Linked DNA regions of Homo sapiens. The protein of the gene in region 4 purifies or fractionates together with the protein of the main gene of each other region. This does not show direct contact. Each region holds a gene or a part of one and is shown on either strand. Other genes may lie near its edges. The genes, in order: KLHL20, TNIP2, CTBS and RELB.

Region 1 (7,032 bases), on a different chromosome or scaffold from region 4:
TTGGGAGGCTGAGGCAGGCGGATCACGAGGTCAGGAGATCAAGACCATCCTGGCTAACTCGGTGAAACCCCGTCTCTACTAAAAATACGAAAAATTAGCCAGACATGGTGGCACATGCCTGTAGTCCCAGCTACTTGGGAGGCTGAGGCAGGAGAATCACTTGAACCCAGGAGGCGGAAGTTGCAGTGAGCCGAGATTGCGCCACTGCAGCCCAGCCTCCGTGACAGAGCCAGACTCTGTCTCAAAAAAAAAAAAAACCAGTGTGATGGCATGTGCCTTTAATCCCAGCTACTCAGGAGGACTGCTTGAGCCTAGGAGTTCAAGACCAGCGTGGGCAACTTAGTGAGACCCTCATCTCAAAAATTAAAAAAAATCAATAAGTAAAAAAACCCAGCAACAACAAATGGTAGAATAATCTGAAAAAGAGAGAGATTCTTTTCCTTCTCCCTTCTTGTACCTATTGTTCCTTTTGTCTTGGGATTTCAAAACTCAGGCCAGTGGCATTTAAGCTTTTTTGATATAACCTGCAGTTTACGAGGGGAAGCAGTGATGCGTATCTATACAAATTTGTGTGTGTACATACACACAATTGAACATGCTTAACTAAATGAAATGTATGCTGTTACTTTCTATTTCATTTTTTAATGCTTCTTATGAGGCACTGAATTTTACAACTAAACCTAGTCCCCATTTACAGCACTCTTACCATAGAAAAATGCAAACCTCCAAATAAACTTTTAGATTCAACTTTTAAATACTACTTATTTATAAATTGAAGAATGTCTGTTTATGAACTTATTCACTTATTTTATAATCATACCGAAACCTCAGTGATTCAGACCAATTTGACAGGAGCAATTCAACATATGTAGTACTTTTAAATGAAGCTTATCATATTTAATATCTCTAGATATGAAATTAGACCCAAATTAATCTAACAAAATCTTGACCTGGAGGCTCTTTGGAGTCCTGCTAAATCATCATTTAGCTTGCCATTTTCTTTACTATTTTAATTTTAATAAACTTTGAAGAAAAGATTTCTATATAAAGATAAACTTCAATCCAGACTTTTTTTTTTTTTTTTTTTTGAGACAGAGTCTCTGTCACCCAGACTGGAGTGCAGTGATGCAATCTCGGCTTACTGCAGCCTCTGCCTCCAGGGTTCAAGTGATTCTCATGCTTCAGCCACCCAAGCAGCTGGGATTACAGGCATGTGCCACCACACACGGCTAATTTTTCTGTAATTTTAGTAGAGACAGGGTTTTGCCACATTCACCAGGCTGGTTTCGAACTCCTGGCCTCAAGTGATAAGCTTACCTCAGTCTCCCAGGGATTACAGACATGAGCCACCACACCAGGCCGTCAGTCCAAACTTTTTATATTGTCTTTAATTTGAAATTTAACTATTAATTGAAGCGTGTTAACTTGGGCTTAATTTTTAAAATGGATAAGCATAACCACCTGATCTAAAAGTTTTATTGCTATAGTAGCTCAATTTAAATGGTTTATGTAGACCAGGCATGTTGGCTTATGCCTACAATCCCAGCACTTTGGGAGGTGGAGGCAACAGGATCACTTGAGCCCAAGAGTTTGAGACCAATCTGGGCAACACAGTGAGACATCATCTCTACAAAAAATTTAAAAAAAAAATCACCAAGCTAATTACATTTCCTTATCGCTTGAATTACAAACATTTAAGGGGAGAAAAGAGCTTATAATAATACTGCCATCTTCTCTCTCTCCCCCATCATTCCTATAGGTGTACCAACATTCGACCAGGAGAGACTGGAATGGATGTAACAAGCCGCTGCACCCTTGGAGACCCCAACAAACTGCCAGAAGGGGTTCCCCAACCTGCCCGCATGCCCTATATCTCAGACAAGCACCCTCGACAAACCTTGGAAGTGATTAACCTTCTGAGAAAGCACCGGGAGCTATGTGATGTGGTGCTAGTTGTGGGCGCCAAGAAGATATATGCCCATCGAGTCATTTTGTCAGCCTGTAGTCCCTACTTCCGAGCTATGTTTACAGGAGAATTGGCAGAGAGCCGTCAGACAGAAGTAGTGATCCGAGACATTGACGAGAGGGCTATGGAATTACTGATTGACTTTGCGTATACCTCCCAGATAACAGTAGAAGAGGGCAATGTTCAGACTCTTCTGCCAGCTGCTTGCCTCCTCCAGCTGGCAGAAATACAGGAAGCCTGCTGTGAATTCTTAAAGAGACAATTAGATCCTTCTAACTGCCTGGGCATTCGGGCTTTTGCTGACACACATTCATGTCGTGAGTTGCTAAGGATAGCAGACAAGTTCACCCAACATAACTTTCAAGAGGTGAGTTGCACTTGGTGTTCCAATGCACCCATTTGTTGGAGAGCAATATGGGTTCACATTCTGCTAAATAACACTTGCCTGGGTATTTCCTGCTGATTCTAACTCATAATAGCAAATAAATAAGTTATTATAAATCCTAAACCTGGCTTTTATTTTAGAGGGCAATTTTGTGTTCTACCAGCAAGTTAAGATTTAGGGATTTATTCTCCCTAACTGTATTCATAAAAGTATTTAAAAAAAAATTTTTAAAAAGGTTTATTTATAAGCCAAAATAGAGTAATTCACAAGAGGATCTATGCCTGATAGGATACCTGGTATCATGATTTATATAAGATATTTCCTTCCTGATTATGTGGATTATTCAGAATAAATTATAGATTATAGGTTGTTTGGTAAACTAATAATCTGAAAAGATGAGTTTAGATGTTATCAAAATAATTTTCATTAAACCTATCTTTCCCTTATTTATTTAACAAATATTTGTAAAGCTACTATGTTTCAGCCACTGTGCTTGGGAGCATAGGGTACAATAGTGAACAAGAAATCTAGAGTCTCTGTATTCATGGAGTTTATAATCTAGCAGGGAAGATAATCATTAAATGCTTAATTATACAAATAATTAACTACAGTTAATGGGTGTTACAAAGAAGCAGTCCTGGATGATTTAAGAGTGTATTACAGAGAAATTTAACTTTGGTGCTGGAACAACTTGTGCAAAATCCCAAGACATTAAAAAGCATCACTAGTTTGAAGACCTGAAAAAAACCCAGTGAGACCCAGAGACCAAGGGGGGTAGAGGATGTTACATAGTGATTACACAGAAAGAAGAGGGCTAAATCACACTGAGGTTGATAGACTATGTTAAGAATTTGAGATTGGCCTGGTGCAGTGGCACATGCCTGTGATCCCAGCACTTTGGGAGGCTGAGGCGGGCAGATTGCATGAGCTCAGGAGTTCAACACTAGCCTGGGCAACATGGCGAAACCCTGTCTCTACAAAAAATACAAAAATTAGTCGGGCATGGTGGCGTGCACCCTTAGTCCCAGCTACTTAGGAGGCTGAGGTGGGAGGATGGCTTGAGCCCAGGAGGTAGAGGTTGCAGTGAGCCAAGATCGTGCCACTGCACTCCAGCCTGGGTGAGAGAGCCAGACCAGACCCTATCTCAAAAAAAAAAAAAAAGAATTTGAGATTGATCCTAAGAGTGCTAGAAAACCATTAAAGGGTTTTAAGCAAAGACAAAACATGGTCTGTTTTACAACTTTTTAAAAAATCATATTTTTATTTATTTTGCAGTAAAGTGGTCAGCTCAGGACCATAGTTTTTTTCCCCCTAATAGTTTTTGGAGAACAGGTGGTGTTTGATTATATGAATAAGTTCTTCATTGATGATTTCTGAGATTTTGGTGCATCCACCACCCGAGCAGTGTACACCGTACCCAATGTGTAGTCTTTTATCTCTCACCCACCTCCCACACTTCCCCCTGAATCCCCAAAGTCCATTGTGTCATTCTTACGACTTTGCATCCTCATAGCTTAGCTCCCACTTATAAGTGAGAACATATCATTTTTGGTTTTCCATTCCTGAGTTACATCACTTAGAATAATGGTCTCCAACCAACTCCATCCAGATTGCTGCAAATGCCATTCTATCTTTTTTTTTTTTTTTTTTTTTTGAGATGGAGTCTCACTTGCTCTGTTGCCCACGCTGGAGTGCAACGGGGCTCAATCTCAGCTCACTGCAACTTCTGCCTCCTGGGTTCAAGTGATTCTCCTGCCTCAGCCTCCCAAGTAGCTGGGACTATAGGTACATGCCACCATGTCCAGCTAATTTTTGTATTTTTATTAGAGATGGGGTTTCACCATGTTGGCCAGGCTGGTCTCAAATTCCTGACCTCAAGTGATCTGTGATCTGCTTGCCTCAGCCTACCAAAGTGCTGGGATTACAGGCGTGAGTCACTGTTCCTGGCCAATATATTGTTCCTTTTTATGGCTGAGTAGTATTCTGTGGTATATATACATACCACATTTTCTTTATCCACTTGTTGATTGATGGGCATTTGGGCTGGTTCCGTATTTTTGCAGTTGTGAATTGTGCTGCTATAAACATGCACATGCAAGTGTCTTTTTCATATAATGACTTCTTTTCCTCTGGGCAGTAACCAGTAGTGGGATTGCTGGAACAAATGGTAGATATACTTTTGGTTCTTTAAGAAATCTCCATATACTGTTTTCCATAGTGGTTGCACTAGTCCACATTCCCACCAGCAATGTAAAAGTGTTCCCTTTTCACCACATCCATGCCAACATCTTTTTTTTTTTTTTAATTTTGAAACAGAGTCTCACTGTGTTGCCCAGGCTGGAGTGCAGTGGCATGATCTCGGCTCACTGCAACCTCCGCCTCCCGGGTTCAAGCGATTCTCCCACCTCAGCCTCCCGAGTAGCTGGGATTACAGGGATTTGCCACCACACCAAGCTAATTTTTGTATTTTTAGTAGAGATGGGGTTTCACCATGTTGGCCAGGCTGGTCTCAAACTCCTGACCTCAGGTGATCTGCCCGCCTTGGCCTCCCAAAGTGCTGGGATTACAGGCATGAGCCACCGCACCCGGCCTATGTTTTTATTTTTTAAATTATGGCCATTCTTGCAGGAGTAAAGTGGTATCACATTGTGGTTTTGATTTGCTGATCATTAGTGATGTTGAGCATTTTTTCATATGTTTGTTGGCCATTTGTATATCTTCTTTTGAGAATTGTCTATTGGTCTTTAGCCCACTTTTTGATGGAATTATTTGTTTTTTTCCTTGGTGATTTGTTTGAATTCCTTGTAGATTCTGGATATTAGTCTGTGGTTGGATCTGTAGTTTGCAAACATTCTCTCCCACTCCGTGGGTTGTCTATTTACTCTGCTGATTATTTCTTTTGCTGTGCAGAAGCTTTTTAGTTTAAGTTCCATCTATTTATCTTTGTTTTTGTTGCATTTGCTTTTGGTTCTTGATCATGAACTCTTTGCCTGAGCCAATGTCTAGAAGGGTTTCTCCAATGTTATCTTCTAGAATTTTTATGGTTTCATGTCTTAGATTTAAGTCTTTGATCCATCTTGAGTTGGTTTTTGTATAAGGTGAGAGATGAAGATTCAGTTTCATTCTTCTACATGTGGCTTGCCAATTATCCCAGCACTGTTTGCTGAATAGGGTGTCCTTTCCCCACATTATGTTTTTGTTTGCTTTGTCAAAGATCAGTTGGCTTTAACTATTTGGCTTTATTTCTGGGTTCTCTATTCTTTCCATTGGTCTATGTACCTATTTTTATGCCAGTATCATGCTGTTTTGGTGACTATAGCCTTGTAAAATAGTTTGAAATTAGGTAATGTGATGCCTCCAGATTTGCTTAGCCTTCCTTTGGGTATGTGGGCTCATTTTTGGTTCCATATGAATTTTAGGATTGTTTTTTCTAGTTCTGTGAAGAATGATGGTGGTATTTTTATGGGAATTGCATTGAATTTATAGATTCTCTTGGCTGTATAGACATTTTCACAATATTGATTCTACCCATTCATGAGCATGAGATGTGTTTCCATTTGTTTGTGTCATCTATGATTTCTTTCAGCAGTGTTTTGGTAGAGACCTTTCACTTCTGTAGTGAGATATATTCCTAAGTATTTTATCTTTTTTTTTTTTTTTGCAGCTATTATAAAAGGGGTTGGGTTCTTGATTTGATTCTCAGCTTGGTTGCTCTTCGTGTATAGCAGTACTACTGGTTTGTGTACATTAATTTTGTACCCTGAAACTTTACTGAATTCATTTACCAGTTCTTGGAGCTTTTTGGATGAGTCTTTAGGGTTTTCTAGGTATACAATCATATTGTCGGCAAACAGCGACAGTTTGACTTTCTCTTTAACAATTTGGATGCTCTTTATTTCATTTGTTTGTTTGTTATAAGAGATGAGGTCTTGCTTTGTCCCCCAGCTTTGACCTCCAGGGCACAAGCGATCCTCCCGCCTCAGCCCCCCACGTAGCTGGGACTACAGATGCGCACCATCATGCCCGGCTAATTTTTGTATTTTTCTGTAGAGACACGGTTTTGCCATGTTGCCCAGGCTGGTCTCAAACTCCTGAGCTCAGGCAATCCACCTGCCTCGGTGTCCCAAAGTGTTGGGAGTACAGGCATGAGCCACTGCACCTGGTCCTGGATGCCCTTTATTTCTTTCTCTTGTGTGATTGCTTTGCCTAGGACTTAAAGTACTATGTTGAATAGAAGTGGTGAAAGTGGGCATCTTTGTCTTGTTCCAGTTCTCAGGGGGAATGCTTTCAACTTTTCCTGTTCAGTATAATATTGGCTGCAGGTTTGTCATAGATGGTTTTTATTACCTTAAGGTATGTCCCTTCTATGCCGATTTTCCTGAGCATTTCAATCATAAATTGATGCTAGATTTTGTCAAATGCTTTTTATGTATCTAATGAAATGATCATATGATTTTTATTTTTAATTCTGTTTATGTGGTATATCACAATTATTGACTTGCATATGTTAAACTATCCCTTCATCCCTGGTATGAAACCCACTTGATCATGGTGGATTATCTTTTTGATATGCTGTTGGATTCAGTTAGCTATTATTTTGTGGAGGATTTTTGCATCTATGTTCATCAGGGATACTGGTCTGTAGTTTTGTTTCTTTGTTATGTTCTTTCCTGGTTTTGGT
Region 2 (5,221 bases), on a different chromosome or scaffold from region 4:
GATCTGGGTGTGTCTGTGAGGGTGTTGCCAAGGAGATTAACATTTGAGTCAGTGGGCTGGGGAAGGCAGATCCACCCTCAATCGGGGTGGGCACCATCTAATCAGCTGCCAGCGTGGCCAGAATAAAGCAGGCAGAAAAACGTGAAAAGAGAGACTGGCCTGGCCTCCCAGCCTACATCTTGCTCCGTGCTGGATGCTTCCTGCCCTTGAACATAGGACTCCCAAGTTCTTCAGTTTCGGAACTCGGGACTGGCTCTCCTTGTTCCTCAGCCTGCAGACGGCCTATTGTGGGAACTTGTGATCGTGTGAGTTAATACTTGACACACTCCCCTTTATATATCTATCTGTTCCATTAGTTCTGTCCCTCTAGAGAACCCTAATACAGCCAGGCTCCCACTGACCCCCTTGTCTTGGTGCCCTGGCAGAAGGCAACAGCAGGAGTGTTTTCCCATGCCAGCTGCTGTAAATACTGTTCAGTCCCTGCACCCCAGCTTCCAACACAAATTCTCAGAGCAGTCACAGCAGCAAGAACGTTTATTATAAAAATAGGTGAATAAAGTAAGTGTGCTTTAACTTCCGGCTGGATGACAAATGCTACTGAAATGCAGTTTCTCAGTGCAGACATGTGGCTCGCAATGGCGGGGGTGGCCACCCTAGTGTGACGTGCAGCCGCAATACTCCATTTGACTGGTTCGAGGCAGAGAGGCGACGCTTTATTCCATAGAACAGGATGGGGCTCCCACCCTGGGGACCATACAAGTGACTCCCTCAGGCAGCCACCCCTTTCTAGGCAGGCTGGGGGAGGGGCTGGCACACCAGCACCAGATAGCTCTGGCTTAAGCCTGATGGAGACACAGACTGGGACCTCCCTCTGCCAGATGTTCCTGACCCCATCTCCACCTCCAGCCTCCAGCCTCACTGGCAGTTCCCTGTGACCCAGCCTGTTCCATAGCCAAAGGGACCAAAGTGAACGATCAGAGTGCCCCGCAACTATTCTAGGGGCCTTGGCTCTCAGTAGAGCTCAACCCATGGCATCTGAGAGCACCCACCCTGTCCCTGAGGGCAGCTGCACCGGGCCAGGAGGCCGCAAGGGCACGGGTGAGTCTCGGTCACTGGCAGCACTCAGCCACATGCCTGAGGAGCTCTTCCCCTTGCTCGTCACTGAAGCACTGCAGGCAGTGAGGGCACTGAAGGTCCCCCTGGCCTCTCTGGGCCGCGCCAGGATGCCCGCCCTCTGCAGGGGGTTCTGGCTGCTGGGACCCAGTCCCAGGCCTCCAGCCACCAGGCACCATAAGCTCTAATGCGTCGGCGGCCAAATACTTGGCAGTTTTGCTCCCAGCGTGAATCCGGCCGGCGTCTGGCTCTCGAGAATCCTGGAGAAAAGGCAAGGGTGTATATACGTGGGCTGTGCTGACGGTCACAAAGCCAGGTCTCAGGTTCCAGCAACCAGAGGCACTTCACCTATCCCTGAGCGGAACTTCAGCCCCTCACTTTGCTTCCTGCTGCGCCCCAGAGCCCAGACAAGGGGGCGCTCAGTGAATGACTGAGGATCACACACACGCTCCGTCATGTGCTCATGAAGAAGTAGGCCCTGGCGTGGTCCACCCCCCAGCCCCTTGGTGGAAGTCCTGTTCAGTTGGACCTATCGGCCCCAGGAGACCTGACTGAGAAGGTGGCCCTGATGACGTGGCCCACAGGCCACCACAGAGTGGAGGTGGCAGAGCCTCTGGTGGGGAGCTGGGCAAACTGAGTACCAACCCTACTCTGCACCTCCTCTGTGGGGCCTGGGGGTGCTGAGCACTCTGGGGCTCAGGGGGTCCTTCAGTAGCAGCAAGAGGTGTCCCTGGCTTGGCCCCACCAACCACCTGGCATGATCTGGCACATGTTCTCCAAACATCCGTCCTGAAGCACTGCAGCCTGTGGCCCTCACTGCTTGCCTGGGAACTTCATTCCAGCAGGCCTTGGTGCTTCCACTTCCTGTCTGAATGTGGACTTTCCCCAGTGGGACTACAGCTTATCACCCATGCCTTCAGCACCACTGTCCCTGGCTGTGCCATCTAGGGACTGAGCAACCCTCGAGGGGCCACAGGCTACTGTTGAAAGGGAACCAGAGGCCACTTAGTACAAGGTCTGCAGGCCCCACCAGGAACTTTACCCCCGGGGGTAAGAATCTGGGCCTGCAAGTCTGGAACCAGTTCATCTGGTCCAAAATCTTCAAGAGGCGGCCTGAGACCATCCTCACGATTGTACCAATAGTGCTCCTTCAATCCAAATCACATGCTTCCTTGAATTCATGAAGGCCAGAAAAACCTGTCCAGCCCTCTGCTGCAGACTTAGTCCCAGGGTTAGTCCCATAGTCCACCATGACTCTCCCGTGCCCTTCATGCGGAGGAGAAGCAGAAACCACTGAGGCCCAGTGGCTGCTCGGAACAGGGCAGTGGGGGGTGGCCTCACAGCCCCAGGGTCCCTGTTCACACCCTGAAACACGGCTGACGTCCTAGCTCCAGCCCGGGACGCATCGATTCTCAAGAGGCATCACTACTGTTCAGTCTGTGCCAGGAGAGGAAGCTCTTTGAGTGGGGCCCAGGCTATTCCCAGGGCCAAAAGTGTGTTAGGTACTTGATGAGGAGCTACATAAACTTCTCCTGGATTTTTGCAGAGCACAAGTCAGTGAGGAGAAGGAAGAGGCCATGGGTCACACACTGAGGAACTTCATCGGTTCCCATTCATGCCAGGCCTCCCTCAAGGCACCCCATGGTAGGAAAAGCACTGAGCCCAGGGGTGGGGTGAGGGGCCCCTGCCCTGCAAGGCCCAGCTCCACGTGCCAGGCTGAGCTGGGGATGTTACTGGACACCCAGGGCCATCACATCTACATGACAAGGTAAGCGGGGTTCCCGTCTCACAGACAGGTCAGGACACGTAGGGAGCTCACACTTTGAGGCCCGAGATATGCTCTCTGACTGCATGACAGTGACGGACGGGCCCTGAGGACAGCCACCTCTGCTAAGACAGGCCGCCATGCCAGCCTCCTCCATAACTAAACAGTATAACAGGGAGGCTTTCCATGACCACGCCCAGGTACCAGGCCAGGTGGCTCTCCCCACAGCAGGGAGGGGCTCGCCACAACCCTCATCACCAGCAAATCAGGGCCTTGGCAGACACAGAAAGGCTCTAATCTCATGAGAAGAGAAACAAAAACACTAAACCTAAGCAGGAAGAAAAACGCCCTCATACTCTACCTGTCTCCAGGACACCTGGTGCAGCAAAGAGGCGACCTTTTCCTCCAGTTCTTGAATCCTACTTTGAGCCCGTTCCCGATCGGCCCTTTCTGACATGAAGTCATCCTTGTAAGCGAGAATCTGAAGAGAGGCGAGACACACATTTCTGCTCAAGGAAGGAGGAAGCGCCCCACCAGGCTTCTCCCACCCCCACAGTGACCACTGCCCACTCAGTGCCACCAAGCCTTCAGCCCAGCCTGTCCCATGATTTCGGCCACCACCGGCCAGCAGACATCTGGTCAGTGCCGTCCGGAGCCCGAGGGACAGACACCTGCTGTTCCAGCATCTGCACCCGCTCCAACGCAGCATCCCGGGCCGTCCTGGAGGCCGCCAGCTCCTGCTTCACTTCGGCACAGTCATTTATTTTCTCTTCCAACTGTCTGTTGAGCCGGGAGATCTCCTTCCTCATCAGCTCGGGCTCGTGGGGGATCTGCAGCCCCCTGAGCTGCGCATGGAGCCCCCTCACGTATTCGTCCCTGCTGGCGTTGTAGCGCTGCCACTTGGCATTGAGGTCTTCAACCTGAAGAGGTGGAGCCGGAAAGCTCACGGTGAAGGCAGCTGACAAAGCTGCTCAAGCCAGCACCCAGTGTGAATTATGTATTAGCAGTGATTCGCTGAGTGAGAGTTTCCTCTTAAATGGAAGCTGCCCCTCCCTGTTCTGTAGAGAGCAGACACTAGGCCCGCTAGAGAATCCTGAGGCAGCACGATGACACCCGTACGCAAGCAGCATGAACGGAGGTGGACTCGGTGCAGCTTTGCTGTCTTAGAAAATGGACCTCCTGCTGCTAACTCTTGCATCTCCTTTACTGACTTGTGGATTAATTTTAGGGGGATGGAGATGGACAGGACATGTCCCGTACGTCGTTTTAAGCAAAAAAGTCCAGTCTCTAGGGACTGTGTGTATCAAGTCCTAGTGGCCAGAGGGCGGGGGGCGACTCTGGGCATCAGCCAAGGAAAGAACCCTCACTTACAGTTTGTAAGCCATGTGTTCTTCTCAAACGAAATGTGAAAGACACTCACGTGAGTCACCTTCTGTTTTAACAGTCGATTTTCTTCCTGCAACTTCTCAATAACACTCTGGACAGAGGTGTGCCCATCTGTGTGTTCCGACTGCATGAGGAAGGGACAGAGAGAAGACACTCTGTCACATACAGCAAGAGGGGAGAAAGCTAGACCCAGAGGCTGAGGCCACAGATTATCACTGCGTCCCCCAGTGCAGCGGGTAGTGATCATTCATTTGGTAGAGAAGCAAAGCAGGGACAAGGGACCACCTTCTCCCTGCCCAGGCCCACCCCACCTGGCCCAGGCCAGAGCCCGGATGGGAGGTCTTCAGGCCACACCACCTTTCACACTGTCCTTATCCCGTCCCACCTACCAGTTTGAGCTGTTTGTCTTTTAAATATTTGGAATGTAAATATTCTAAAGCCATAATGTCTGCAGGGATTGGCACACCAGACATGATAAAGTCTTCTCATTGCCAGAGATTTGCCATTATCACAGACAGCAGGGAAGGCAGGAAGCTGAATCCCATTGTAAACCAGAGGATCTCCAGTGAGGGGGCCCCCAGCTGCCCAGGGTGGGCCTGGCCATGCACCCTGCTTACCTCCTTTGGAGCCCATGACACTGTCCTGTCTGCAGACAATCGGGTTCAACCAGGTGATTCTGGACACAGGAATCTAACCTCTGCCCCACGCAGGGTCAGGAGTCACCGAAGCCACAACCCAAACCAACCCCCACTAACAACTACAGAGCTGAATGAAAAGTCTCCTGAAACTCGTGTGTACCCTACAATTCTGACTGTATCTCAGTGACATAATTTTTGAGAATTCCCCTCAAATGACAAAGGAAGTGCACGTCCTAACACAGCCTACACCGGGAAGCCCCGGGTGACTCAGCTGAGTTCAGGGCTGAGAAGTGACACTTATTTAGAGACTGTGATGAGG
Region 3 (7,032 bases), on a different chromosome or scaffold from region 4:
ATAATCCAGATCACTGAGGTACAGCATGCAATTGACCAGCTTAAGAGAAAACTAGATACTGACAAAATGAAACTCATAGTAGAAGTTAAGGTAATTTACATTTTTCCTAATCAGATTATTATAACATTTATCTTGAAATAAAATATTTTGGTGTTTTAACTTTGGGTGTCAATAATATAAGGGTAGCCAGGATTGACTGTATTAAAATTGTTACCTTAACAGTAAAGAGCATAGGTGAAAAAAAAAATGCAGGAAGAAAAACTAAACCTGTGAAAAGATACATGATATAATAAAGCCAAAGTAAAATTTAGTAAAATTTTACTAGGAAGAATTAAAGGAAAAGGAACCTGTGAGTCAATATATTCTCAAAAAAAATTTTAAGTAGTTTTCCTGTATTAGAATTATTAAGTCTGATAAACCACTGAGCTCTCCTCTGAACTGACATTTAATTTTTTATGGGTAATCGTTTCATTTTTTCTGGTTATTTTCATATGTATTCTATTATTTAAATATGAATAATGTGTCTTCTACTAGATGTTAAGTTTCCTTCCTGGCAGAGACTATGCCTTAGTTAACTTTGTTTCTCCCATGGGACCTTTTGTATAGCAGATGCTTAGTAGAGGCTTCTGGGCATGCTCTATTTGGTGAGAATTGTGTACAACTAATTACATCATAGAAATTATCTGTGAAGTACATATGTATTAAAAAGCTTTTTTGTTGAACAGAAAACAGAAGATTATACATTTTCATACAAGTACCCACAGCAAGGCAGGAAAATGAGAACGATAATTATATGAATGCTCTCATTTCTTTATCAGAAACAGCTTTATGACACAGAATAATGACTGCATTCTAGAATTAGCTCTTTTTAAAAAAATTTTAAAAAGAAAAAAGAAAATCAGTACTGTCCTCGGTTTCAGATAAAAATAAAAATAAATAAAATTTAAAAATAAAAAAATAGAATTAGCACTGTCCAACAGAACTTATGTGATGATAGAAATGTTCTATGCCTGCACTGTCAGATTGGTACCCACTAGCCACCTATTGATATTGAGCACTTGAAATGTAGTTTGTGTGACTGAGGAACTGAATTTTAAATTTTATTTAATTTTAGTTAATTTAAGTTTAGTAGTTACATATGGCAACTGGCTTCTACTATACTGGACAGTGCAGTTCTAGATTCTTTTTACAAGCAGCATTCTCGAGGCTAAATAAGCCCTGGTTTGGCACTGAGAAGCTTAAAACTTAAAATAGAAAAGGAAAAGAGCAGAGGATAATTTTTAACAAAATATCAGTTAAATATGCACTCAAAAAATAATTTGTTCAATGAAGGAAAACTGTCTATTCAATATATGGAGATAAAGCCAATATGTAAACTTGTACACTTAATAATTGGGTAGGTAGGAAGGAGTAATAAAAATGCCCCCAGAGGCTTGGATTATGACTCCCCTCATGCTGTTTTCTTCTGGAAAGCATGCACATTACTTGTAATCTTTGTATATTTTAACATTACAAATGTCACTCATGGTTTGAACTCAAATTAGAATTGTTCATACAAAAACAGTAAGGACAAGTGGAATAAGAGGAAAAAAAGAGAACAAAGTTTTCAGCTTATAGGCTGGGGGGAAAAAATCCTGTATTTAACCATAGTGCCTGATTGACACATAACAGACATTATTTAAGAAGTTTTATTGATTTCTGAATGATCTCCCCAAAACAGCACTACCTATAAGATTCAGAACTAAGGGACAAAAAAAACCCAGCCTGAGTCTCTTGCAACCATATTTATTCAAGATAGTATAGCATAAGTAGTGCTTCTCAAAGTTTAATATATCATCTGAGGATCCTGTTTAAAAATGCAGGATCTGACTCAGTAGGTCTGGGTGCAGCCTGAGATTCTTCCTACCTAACAAGCTCCCAACTGATGCTAATGCTGCTGTCCACAGACAACACTTGGAATAGTAAGGGCTCTGGTACCAGGTGGTTTGAATTTGAATCCTGGCTGTACCCACTTCACTTACTAGTTTTTTATCTTGAGCAAGTTACTTAGCCTCTAAAGGTCTCCATTTCAACTGTAAAATGGGGATAAATACTAGTATCTGATTCTGTAAAATTTTTGAAAAAAAAATAAGAGACTAATACACTTAGAAGAGTGCTTGCCACAGAGTAAACACTATATTTCTGAAATATCTATTCCGTTCCTAAGGGCTAGGAATTAAGGGTTTTTTTTGTATTTTGTTTTCTTGTTGTTTTCACTATTTTCTTTACACATTGAGAACAACAGGTTTTGAAGTTTAAGCAAAACATAAAATTCTTTCTCACTCTAGTTTTTAGAACAGTTCAATTGTATTGTCCCTATCTACTCATAAACAAGGTTACCTTATAGCATATCTCACCAGTAGATAAGCATGCTTATTAAACAGCATTCATAATCTACACATTTACTGTAGTAATCCAGTGGGAGTTGAAAGCACTGAAGCCAAATGAGAGAAGACAGTTAAAGCGGTTACAAAAACCCTGTTTACATGACAACTATGATGTACTTTTAGAAGGGTATGATGAAGTTCATTTTTGAAAAGTAATTCTTTTTATAGATGAGAAAACAAGCAGTTTCAGATTTACGAACATTGAAAACTGAACTGGCACAGAAAAAAAAAATAATACATCTCTACAATCTCAATTAGGTATGTTAATTTAAAACTTTTATTTGTAAAAAAATTTAAATATGTATTTGAACAGATTTGTTTAACCATTATTCTCCTTGGCAATGTTTTATAAAAAGCACAAGGTTTCTCTTTCTCCACTTTCCATGTGGGTATTACAAAATGTTTCAGGAAATATTAGATGTAATATAAAGCAAAATGATGAATGGTTATTTTTAACATTCCAAGTCCTTTACATATTATTTTACAGTGCTAATTTTATAATTTTCATTTTAATAATTTAATAATAAAATTCAATAATAATTTATTTAACAATTTAAGAGCTAATATAACTAAAATCTATTTGCAAAGAATAAATGTATATTAATGAATACTAATATATTTGCATGAAAATACAGACTTCATTTAACTTAATTTGTTCATTATATCTTAATTAAAAGAAATCTGGAAATATAAAAGAATGGGGGTATTGAAGTTGCATTCTGAGCTATGATAGAGATAAGCATCTAAGAATTTAAATTTTTTAATTCATTTATTTTAGAAATATGAAGACAACAGTGATCCAACATATACTATGAAAATGGTTTTTACTCTGTCACAAACAATTGTGTAAATAGGAAATGTAATATTCTCATAACAGATGGTTCAATCATCATGTATTCCAATTTACAGGGGCAAAATGTGCAGGGAAGCCAGGATTTATGTAAATCTAGAGTTCAAAGATACAGATTTTTAATCTGTAATTAGGAACTAATAAGGGCAGCACAATGTTGTTCTTAATTCCCTGGAGAAAGAAAACAGACTTTATTACATTTAGAAAACTTATTTGTATAAAATTGATCTTTTAGAAAGAGAACTAGTTGAGAAGCTAATCAGTGTCTTTAGATCATTAAAAGCACAATGCAGCTCATGCCTGTAATCCCAGCTCTTTAGGAAGCCAAGGCAGGAGGAGTGCTTGAGCCCAGGAGTTGGAGACCCATCTGGACAACATAGCGAGACCCTGTCTCTACAAAAAATAAAAATAAAAAAGATACATTGCAGATGTAGAAAGAAAAATTTAACCATGTAAGCAAGCTAGCCAAGAAATAAATTATATATGTCCATAAATGAAGAAATGAATAATTAGAAGTGTGACAGTGAACAGAATCAAGTTCAACTGCAAGTTATTCCTATTATTAAAAATTTTACAAATGAGCCTCATAAAAATAATGTAGTTGGAAAATATTAGGTAGTTCTAACTTACCAATTCAAAATATTACTGTTACATTCTTCTATTTTGTGAATACATTTAATCTTCTGGATTCTTTTTAATTCTCACTCACTGTCCAAAGATTTAGTTCAAGTACCTCAGAGAACATAAATACTATATGGAGTCAGGAAGCAGAAAAATTATTTTCATCAGTTTGATGAACCTAAAGGGGAGACACTACATTGTAGGTTTTAAATTTAAGATTTATTGGAGGGTTGGGGGAAAAGTATAGCACAAACTGCTTTTCAAAGACTAGGTTTTTAAAAACTCTAAGCAAACAATTTCCACTTCAGATTATACATATTTTAAAAATCAGCATTGATTCGTGAGCATATATTTTACTATAATGAAGGGAAATATGGCATAATAAAATTCTGAAAGCAATTTTTCCCAATTAAATTATAGTGTTGAAACATCTAATAGAGGAATATTTAATAGGTAAGTTGACTTGCTTCTTGCCTTTATGTTCCTGGATACTGAGGACATTCGTGTGTATTTTTCAAATTCAAACAATCAAAACATTTATTTATTCTTTTTTTTTAGTATACGGATAACAAAAGTATATAGCAACATAATAAAAATGCAAGAAACTAGATCTGTTGATACAGATCATCTTTCTAACTCTTAATGGTTTGACAAAAGATGTTCATCTCTGTAACAGCTTTGGCTTTAAGACTTCCCACATTTCTTCAGTTTGCTGTTTGGCTACAGCATCTCCAGAGTAGTCAAGACAGTTTGCATTCCACATGCCAATGCCCCGTAAGCGATAGTTTTGTATATATGTTGCCTTTAAAGAAATACTCTGAGGGTTATCATACCATACTTGATGAAAGTGGCCAGCAGGATCCTATATAAATAAATTAAAATGGAGATTTTAAAGTATTTAGTACAATTCAGCACCACAGGAAAGGGAAAAATAAAAGAAGTATACAGTACAGTAAGAGGGAAAAAAGTTTCCTAAATCCAATTATTCAAAAAGGATACAATGAAATAAAAATTTTAGGGCATAACACTTTCCTATTCTATAATTCCATGGTTCTATATTTGATACAAATGGTCCCTGACTTACAATGGTTCAACTTACAATTTTTAGACTTTACGATGGATTTATCAGGGTATTTCGTTCATTTTCAACTTATCATATGTTTATGGGTTTATTAGGACACAATACAATCATAAATCAAGGAACATCTGTACTTTCTAGGTATTATTGCTTATGGCACTTTTAACAATGGCAAAGATTACAGAAACGAGCCTCCTAATAGATTCTACTTGAGCTCCTTTTCATGTCCTAAGATTCTTTCCTTGCCCTTAGCCAGTGATTATTAGCCAAGGCGTACATCTGAATCACTTGCGGAGCTTTTAAAATACAGATTCCTGGGTCCCACACCACATGAAACCTATTGAATCAGAATTCTCCAGGGTTAATGCTAGGGCATATATTTGTTTTGTGTTTTAATGTTTCATTAGATAATGCTGGTATGCAACCAAAGTTAAGGGGAATCAATGCTCTGGTCCTCTAAAACCAGCTTATGTGCTTTTTTGTATTCTCTGTAGTTGCTAGAAGTGTGCCTGGCTAGGAGGTCTACAGAAGATTTTGTTTATGATGAATCAGCCAAGTCAAAAGGTAATGGCAATGGAGGAGAAAAGTACATCCTTTTCTAGGTCTTACAGATACATTCTCAGAGTCTGTTAGGTCTGCACTTTATTGGTGACTTAACATACACCTGATTATGAGCCATAAATTAGATTCTGGTCTTATGTTCACCTTCCACCCTAAAAAGTCCTTCTGCCCAGAATCAACTACCTCTATCTAGTACTAACACAGTCTCTCTCAGGCAGCACATGAGCTATTGGATAAGAGACAAAGGAAAAGGGAAAGGAGCAGATCTAGGACAAAGTGCAAAGGAAGGTGAAAAAGATAGGAGATAAAAAATAGAAAGACCTGTGACTAAAAATAATTTACTTATTTTTATATACATCTAGGAAACTCCTTAAAGGCATTTCTGAATTAATGCCAGTAATATTTACAGCAGCACTCCTGGAATTAGAATAGTCTCTTAAGATGACCACTTTGGGGCCGGGCACGGTGTCTCAGGCCTGTAATACCAGCACTTTGGGAGGCCGAGGCAGGCAGATCATGAGGTCGAGAGATCGAGACCATCCTAGCCAACATGGTGAAACCCCATCTTTACTAAAATACAAAAAAATTAGCTGGGCTTGGTGGTGCATGCCTGTAGTCCCAGCTACTCTCGAGGCTGAGGCAGGAGAATTGCTTGAACCCAGGAGACGGAGGTTGCAGTAAGCTGAGATCACGCCACTGCACTCCAGCCTGGAGACAGAGCAAGACTCCGTCTCAAAAAAAAAAAAAAAAAAGACCACTTTGAAGGAAAATAATTCACCTGGTAAATGAATACACTGCGGCATATTTAAATATGGTAGACTAATTGTAATCAAGCATATCTCAGTCTGTATCTTATATTCCATTCTTTAACATTTTTAGAACTAGACAAAGCCATGCATGCCCTAGTAATAGTTGTGATTCATTATTAAAAGGCAACTTGTAGAACTTGTACTTAAATATGACAGATTATTGAAGATTCAGGGGCAAACCCAAAGACATATACCTTTGAATTTTGCCATCATTCTAGCTAGTACTTTGAGCCTTTTTGATATTATTAAGAAATTCAAATGTCTCAAAATTGTAAAGGAACAAAGGGCAAAAACTAAGCACATGTAAGACTAATTTATGCATGGTTAAGGCATATTTGCTTTCCAGAATATTGAGTCCAAGATGAGCTGCTATTGCTGAAACAGCCCAATAGAGTGATTCTCTTCAAATAAGACAGAAACTTGATTCATGTTGCTACAGAATTTTGCAATTAATAAAAAAGAGGGGGCCAGGCGCGATGGCTTACGCCTGTAATCCCAGCATTTTGGGAGGCCAAGATGGGTGAATCACCTGAGGTCAGGAGTTCAAGACCAGCCTGGCCAACATGGTGAAACCCTGCCTCTACTACAAATACAAAAATTAGCTGGGTGTGGTGATGCATGCCTGTAATCCCAGCTACTCAGGACGCTGAGGCAGGAGAATTGCTTGAACCTGGGAGGCGGAGGGCG
Region 4 (7,032 bases):
GCATGAGCCACCGCGCCCAGCCTATTATTTATTGAGAGACGGAGTCTCACTCTGTCGCCCAGGCTGGCGTGCAGTGTCACGATCTTGACTTACTGCAGTGTCCGCCTCCTGGGTTCAAGCTGTTCTCCTGCCTCAGCCTCCTGAGTAGCTGGGATTACAGACGTGGGAGACCATTCGGGCTAATTTTTGTAGAGACGGGGTTTCACTATGTTGGCCAGGCTGGTCTCGAACTCCTGACCTCAATTGATTCACCCACCTTGGCCTCCCAAGGTGTTGGGATTACAGGCGTGAGCCACCGCACCTGGCCTCCCTGACTCTGTGTGTGTGTGTGTGTGTGTGTGTGTGTGTGTGTGTGTGTGAGAGAGAGAGAGAGAGAGAGAGAGAGAGAGAGAGAGATAAATGGGATGGAAAACGTCTCGGGGGTAATCAAGCCTTTTTTTTTTTTTTTAATTTTTTAAAGAATGGGCGTCACCACCCGTTTTTTCTTCTCCCGCAGAGATCATCGACGAGTACATCAAGGAGAACGGCTTCGGCCTGGACGGGGGACAGCCGGGCCCGGGCGAGGGGCTGCCACGCCTGGTGTCTCGCGGGGCTGCGTCCCTGAGCACGGTCACCCTGGGCCCTGTGGCGCCCCCAGCCACGCCGCCGCCTTGGGGCTGCCCCCTGGGCCGACTAGTGTCCCCAGCGCCGGGCCCGGGCCCGCAGCCGCACCTGGTCATCACGGAGCAGCCCAAGCAGCGCGGCATGCGCTTCCGCTACGAGTGCGAGGGCCGCTCGGCCGGCAGCATCCTTGGGGAGAGCAGCACCGAGGCCAGCAAGACGCTGCCCGCCATCGAGGTGGGCCCGGCGAGCGGCCCCGGGCGGGTGGGACTGGGGCTTCCCCTGCACCCCGGAGCCATCCACATGCATTTATACGTTTATTTGATGGTGGCTGTTGTTGTTATTGTTGGACCAGATATTAATTATACTATCACCTGGCCTGGAATCCAAAAGGTTCAGAAAAAAGGAGGGGTCGGACATTTGGCTGGGCACGGTGACTCGCGCCTGTAATCCCAGTACTTTGGGAGTCTGAGGCGGGCGGATCCCTTGATGTCAGGAGTTCGAGACCAGCCTGGCCAACATGGTGAAACCCCATCTGTACTAAAAGTACACAAATTAGCCGAGTGTGGTGGCACAATCCCAGCTATTTAGGAGGCCGAGGTGGGAGGATTAGCTGAGCCCAGGGAGGTGCAGGCTGCTGTGAGCTGAGATTGCACCATTGCATAGCAGTCTGGGTAACAGAGTGAGACCTTGTCTCAAAAAAAAAGAAAAAAAAAAAAGAAGGCAGATCGTGGTGCGGTGGCTCAGGCTTGTAATTCTAGCACTTTGGGAGGTCGAGGCGAGCGGATCACTCGAGCTCAGGAGTTCTAGATGAGCCTGGGCAAGACGGCAAAACCCCATCTCTACAAAAAATACAAAAATTAGCCAGGTGTGGTGGCACATGGCTGTAGTCCTAGCTACATGGTAGGGCTGAGGTGGGAGGATCGCTTGAGCCTAGGAGGTCAAGGCTACAGTGAGCCAAGATCGCACCACTGCACTCCAGCCTGAGCAACAGAGCAATACCCTGCCTCCATTAAAAAACAAACAAATATATATAACACTGGAAGTAAAAAAAGCAAAGGTGATTACTTTTGGCAGGGTATTAATGTATTAATAAGGTACAGGTAAGTTTTATTTTTTTGAGACGGAGTCTTGGTCTGTTGCCCAGGCTGGAGTGCAGTGGTGTGATCTCGCCTCACTGCAACCTCCACCTCCCGGGTTCAAGCGATTCTCCTGCCTCAGCCTCCCGAGTAGCTGGGATTACAGGTCCACCACCACGCCTGGCTAATTTTTGTATTTCTTAGTAGAGAAGGGGTTTTGCCATGTTGGCCAGGCTGGTCTCAAACCCCTGACCTCAAGTGATCCGCATGCCTTGGCCTTCCAGAGTGCTGGGATTGCAGGTGTGAGCCACTGTGCCTGGCCTCTTTGGTGTCTGTTAATCTGGATCTGTTCTTCAATCTGTCTTTGTGTTTCGTGAGTTGAACATTTGTGCAGAACAGGACGGATGTTTTGTAGAATGTCCCACATTCTGAAGCTGGTCGTGGTGGCTCATGCCTGTAATCCTAGCACTTTGGGAGGCCGAGGCAGGCGGATCACCTGAGGTCGGGAGTTCGAGACCACCCTGACCAACATGGAGAAACCCCATGTCTACTGAAAATACAAAATTAGTGCGGCGTGGTGGTGCATGCCTGTAATCCCAGCTACTCGGGAGGCTGAGGCAGAAGAATCACTTGAATCCGGGAGGCAGAGGCTGCGGTGAGCCAAGATCGTGCCATTGCTCTCCGGCCTGAGCGACAAGAGCAAAACTCCTTCTAAAAAAAAGAAAAAGAAAAAGAAAAAAAGAATATCCCACATTCTGGGTTTGTTGGCTGTTTCCAGATTAGGTCAGATTATGCATTTTTGGCAGAAACACTCCAGCAGTGATGCTGTGGCCTTCTCAGTGTCTCACATCAAGGGACGTGGGATGTCGTTATTCCCAATATTGGTGATGCTGAGTTGGATCCTCCAGCTAATGTGGTGACTATCAGGTCTCTCCATGATAAAGATACAACTTTCCCTTTGTAATGAATTGGTAAGTTATCTATGGGATGATATACTGAGATGTATCATCCCATGTTTAACTGTATTCCCCAACTTCTAATTTCTAAGGCTTTTTTTTTTTTTTTTTTGGAGACAGGGTCTCTCTCTGTCACAGAGGCTGGAGTAAAGTGGCACAAGCACGGCTCACTGCAGCCTCCACCTCCCAGGCTCAAGAGACCCTCCCACCTCAGCCTCCTGAGTTGCTGGGACTACAGGTGCATGCCACCGTGCCTGGCTAATTTTTGTATTTTTTTGAAGAGTTGGCATCTCACCATGTTGTCCAGGCTGGTCTTGAACTTCTGGCCTCAAGCAATCCTCCCACTTTGGCCTCCCAAAGTGTTGGAATTACATGTGTGAGCCACCGCACCGGCCTAATTTCTAAGTCTTCCCAGGCAGTTATTCTGGCTCAGAGTTTTTTTTTGTTTTTTGGTTTTTTTTTTGATGGAATCTTGCTCTGTCACCCAGGCTGGAGTGCAATGGTGCAATCTCAGCTCACAGCAACCTCCACCTCCTGGGTTCAAGCGATTCTCCTGCCTCAGCCTCCCAAGTAGCTGGGATTACAGGCACGCGCCATGATGTCCGGCTAATATTTTGTACTTTTAGTAGAGATGGGGTTTCACCATGTTGGCCAGGCTGGTCTTGAACTTCTGACCCCAAGTGATCTGTCTGCCTCAGCCTCCCAAAGTGCTGGGATTACAGGTGTGAGCCACCGTGCTCGGACCCCAGAGTTGGTTTTGATTTCCAAGATTTAGAATGGTAAATGCCTAACCATAGGGAATGACCTGTCTCCAAATCTGGATTCAGGATTTTTTTTTTTTTTTTTGAGACGGAGTCTTGCTCTGTTGCCCAGGCTGGAGTGCAGTGGTGTGATCTCAGCTCACTGCAACTTCCGCCTCCTGGGTTCAAGCGATTCTCCTGTCTTAGCCTCCCAAGTAGCTGGGATTACAGGTGTGCACCACCATGCCCAGCTAATTTTTGTATTTTTAGTAGAGACAGGGTTTCACCACATTGGCCAGGCTGATGTCAAACTCCTGCCCTCAGGTAATCCACCTGCCTCGGCCTCCCAAAGTGCTGGGATTACAGGCATGAGCCAGCATGCCTGGCTTGGATTCAGGATGTTTATCCCCATCTTCAGAGTAGGAAACTGAGGTTAAAAGAGGGGCAGTTACCTGCACAGGGCACACAGCAAGTTTACTATTGTAATTACCGCCATTTACTGAGTGCTTCCATGTACCAGGTACTTTGCATACCTATTTTACACATAAAGACAGTAAGACCCGAGAGGTTTATCTTGTAGATGGCCAGTGGTAGAGCCTGGATTTGGTGCCAGGTCGGACTTATTCTAAAGCCTAATGGGCCAGGCATGGTGGCTCATGCCTGTGATCCCAGCACCTTGGGAGACTAAGGCAGGAGGATCACTTGAGGCCAGGAGTTCAAGACCAGCCCAGGTGACATGGCAAGATGCCCGTCTCTATAAAAATAAAAAAATTAGCCAGGCGTGGTGGCATGCGCCTGGGGTCCCAGCACCATGGGAGGCTGAATGGGGAGGATTGCTTGAGCCTGGGAAGTGGAGGCTGCAGTGAGCCATGGTCACACCACTGCACTCCAGTCTGGGTGACAGAGAAAGATGCTATCTCAAAAAAAAAAAAGAAAAAAGAAACAACTAAAGTCTAATGTTTTTTCCACAGTCCCAACTGACATCTCAAGGATGAAAAGCTTTCAGCCCTGGAGTCTGCATGAGTCCGAGACTGTTGACTCTAAGCTTTTCAGAATCTCCTACTATTACAGCGGGGAGCTGGTTAAATGAATGGTTTTAACCCTATCTGACCCAGTGAGATTTGTAGACAATATTACCTACCTCTATTCACAGTCACTCCCAAAGTCCATATTTTATTTTATTTTATTATTATTTTTTTTTTGAGATGCAGTCTCGCTCTGTCACCCAGGCTGGAGTGCAGTGGCATGCAACCTCCGCCTCCTGAGTTCAAGTGATTCTCCTGCCTCAGCCTCCCGGGTAGCTGAGATTACAGGCACCTGCCAGCAGGCCCGGCTAATTTTTGTGTTTTTAGTAGAGACGGGGTTTCACCATGTTGGCCAGGCTGGTCTCGAACTCCTGACCTCAAGTGATCTGCCTGCCTCAGCCTCCCACAGTGCTGGGATTACAGGCGTGAGCCACCGTGCCTGGCCAAAACTCCATATTTTACACCAAACTGTAGTATAAAAGAGAAAGAAAAGGAAATTAATACAGCATATATAATCACATTTATTTCAATATGTAAACGCCCCACAGGATATATGAGGAAGGTGGCAGTTGTTTGTGACTATATATAGGCTCCTTGTTAATGCCGTGGCCACAAATGCAGCCTGACCCAGCTGCGCAGACTTAGTGACTTATATGTCACACGTGCAGGGTTGCGGTTGGTGAGGGGATTTTCCAAAGTGGCGAACAACTCTTGGTCTAAACAATTAGTGTGCTGGTTGCAATCTTTGAAAATTCAGTGGGTATTACAGTTATGGGAAACTCCAGCCTGGGTGACAGAGTTAGACCTCGTCTCAAAAAAGAAAAAGGAAAAACAATTATGGGAAAGAATATTATTGGTGTCAAACAGAGCAAGGGCCAGGTGTGATGCATGCCTGTAAGCCCAGATGTTTGGGAGACTAAAGTGGAAGTATTGCTTGAGTCTGGGAGGCGGAGGTTGCAGTGAGCTGAGATCGTGCCATTGCACTCCAGCCTGTGCGAGATCCTGTCTTAAAAACAAACAAACAAACAAACAAACAAATCCACTCAGCAACAATAGAGCAAGTTTCTGGGATCTGGTCATTTTAAACAGGTTTCTTATTGACTCGAATCTTTGGCAGGATGTTCAGAAGGCTTGCTGGCTGTGGGATGGCTGTGCGGGACTGTCCCTGGTATTATAAACTGTCCAGCATAACTGGTCCTGTCTACTTGCGGTAGGGTCCACATCAGTGTCAACCAGCCACCCCCCAAATCCCATTTTTCCCCTAGGGGGCAGCACTCCCCCACTGAGACCAATGGTTAATGGTATTTTATAGGCTTGGGCTTTAGAAGTTCAGAGCAGGCTTCAGAAGGTATTTAATGCCAGCAGGGCTGAGCCAGTGACTCAAAGCTGCCAAGTGGGACTGGCCCTGCCTAACGGGGCTGGTTTTTATTTGCTGCTGCCTGTGGCTGCTGAGCAAAAATTCTGGCTTCACTTGCTATATCTTCCTTTTTTAAAAAAGAAAAATCTGGGGAGGCCGAGGTGGGCGGACCACCTGAGGTTAGGAGTTCGAGGCCCTGGAGGCTGGGATCGCACCACTGCACTCCAGCCTGGGCAACAGAGAGAATCTGTCTAAAAAAAAAAAAAACAATTCTGGAAATCCGAAATAATGTGATGTCTTATAATTTTAATTGTGGGCTCCAAGTTTTTCCTAATCTTTTACTTGGAAAAAAAAGTTTTAGTTTTTTCCTGTCTAGTTTTTCTTTTTAAGTTTTATTGAGGTATAATTGATGTAAGAAAAATTGCACATACTTAATGTATACATTTTGATGAATTTGTTATTATTCCTTTTTTTTTTTTTTTGAGACAGAGTTTTGCTCTTGTTGCCCAGGCTGGAGTGCAATGGTGCGATCTCTGCCTCTCAGGTTCAAGCAGTCCTCTTGCCTCAGCCTCCTGAGTTGGTAGGATTACAGGCCTGTACCATCATGCCTGGCTAATTTTGTATTTTTAGTAGAGAGGGGGTTTTGCCATGTTGCCCAGGCTGGTCTCGAACTCCTGGCCTCAGGTGATCCACCCGCCTCAGCCTCCCAAAGTGCTGGGATTGCAGGCACGAACCACCGTGCCCAGCCCTTTTGATTAGTTTGGATGATAAAAGAATTTAAACCTAGAGACCAGGCGCGGTGGCTCACGCCTGTAATCCCAGCATTTTGGGAGGCCGAGGCAGGTGGATCACCTGAGGTCAGGAGTTCGAGACCAGCCTGGCCAACATGGAGAAACCCCATCTATACTAAAAATACAAAAATTCTTGGCCGAGCGTGGTGGCTCAGGCCTGTAATCCCAGCACTTTGGGAGACTAAGGCAGGCAGATCACAAGGTCAGGAGGTGGAGACCATCCTGGCTAACATGGTGAAACCCCGTCTCTACTAAAAATACAAAAAATTAGCCAGGTGTGGTGGCGGGCGCCTATAGTCCCAGCTACTCGAGAGGCTGAGGCAGGAGAATGGCGTGAACCCAGGAGGTGGAGCGTGCAGTGAGCTGAGATCGTGCCACTGCACCCCAGCCTGGCCAACAGAGCGAGACTCCATCTCAAAAAAGTAAAATAAAATAAAAATACAAAAATTAGCCAGGCATGGTGGCAGGCACCTGTAATCTTAGC

The links.
Region 1: the proteins of RELB (region 4) and KLHL20 purify together in Homo sapiens (affinity purification with mass spectrometry; 2 studies listed by BioGRID and IntAct, with this or other methods). This does not show direct contact.
Region 2: the proteins of RELB (region 4) and TNIP2 purify together in Homo sapiens (affinity purification with mass spectrometry; 2 studies listed by BioGRID and IntAct, with this or other methods). This does not show direct contact.
Region 3: the proteins of RELB (region 4) and CTBS purify together in Homo sapiens (affinity purification with mass spectrometry; 2 studies listed by BioGRID and IntAct, with this or other methods). This does not show direct contact.

What each region holds. Positions count from the first base shown.
Region 1 is NC_000001.11:173,731,954-173,738,985, forward strand, and holds part of KLHL20 (kelch-like protein 20), read left to right. Parts: intron 1-1,759; coding exon 1,760-2,333; intron 2,334-7,032. UniProt on the Homo sapiens protein: Substrate-specific adapter of a BCR (BTB-CUL3-RBX1) E3 ubiquitin-protein ligase complex involved in interferon response and anterograde Golgi to endosome transport.
Region 2 is NC_000004.12:2,741,148-2,746,368, forward strand, and holds the end of TNIP2 (TNFAIP3-interacting protein 2), read right to left. Parts: intron 4,389-5,221; coding exon 4,299-4,388; intron 3,799-4,298; coding exon 3,550-3,798; intron 3,360-3,549; coding exon 3,240-3,359; intron 1,374-3,239; coding exon 1,110-1,373; 3' UTR 501-1,109; downstream 1-500. UniProt on the Homo sapiens protein: Inhibits NF-kappa-B activation by blocking the interaction of RIPK1 with its downstream effector NEMO/IKBKG.
Region 3 is NC_000001.11:84,550,441-84,557,472, forward strand, and holds part of CTBS (di-N-acetylchitobiase precursor), read right to left. Parts: intron 6,056-7,032; exon of another isoform or gene 5,540-6,055; coding exon of another isoform or gene 5,470-5,539; intron 4,760-5,469; coding exon 4,559-4,759; 3' UTR 2,685-4,558; coding exon of another isoform or gene 2,595-2,684; 3' UTR 91-2,594; coding exon of another isoform or gene 1-90. Other genes in the region: SPATA1 (spermatogenesis-associated protein 1), read left to right, coding at 1-90, 2,595-2,684. UniProt on the Homo sapiens protein: Involved in the degradation of asparagine-linked glycoproteins. Hydrolyze of N-acetyl-beta-D-glucosamine (1-4)N-acetylglucosamine chitobiose core from the reducing end of the bond, it requires prior cleavage by glycosylasparaginase.
Region 4 is NC_000019.10:45,011,440-45,018,471, forward strand, and holds part of RELB (transcription factor RelB), read left to right. Parts: intron 1-496; coding exon 497-837; intron 838-7,032.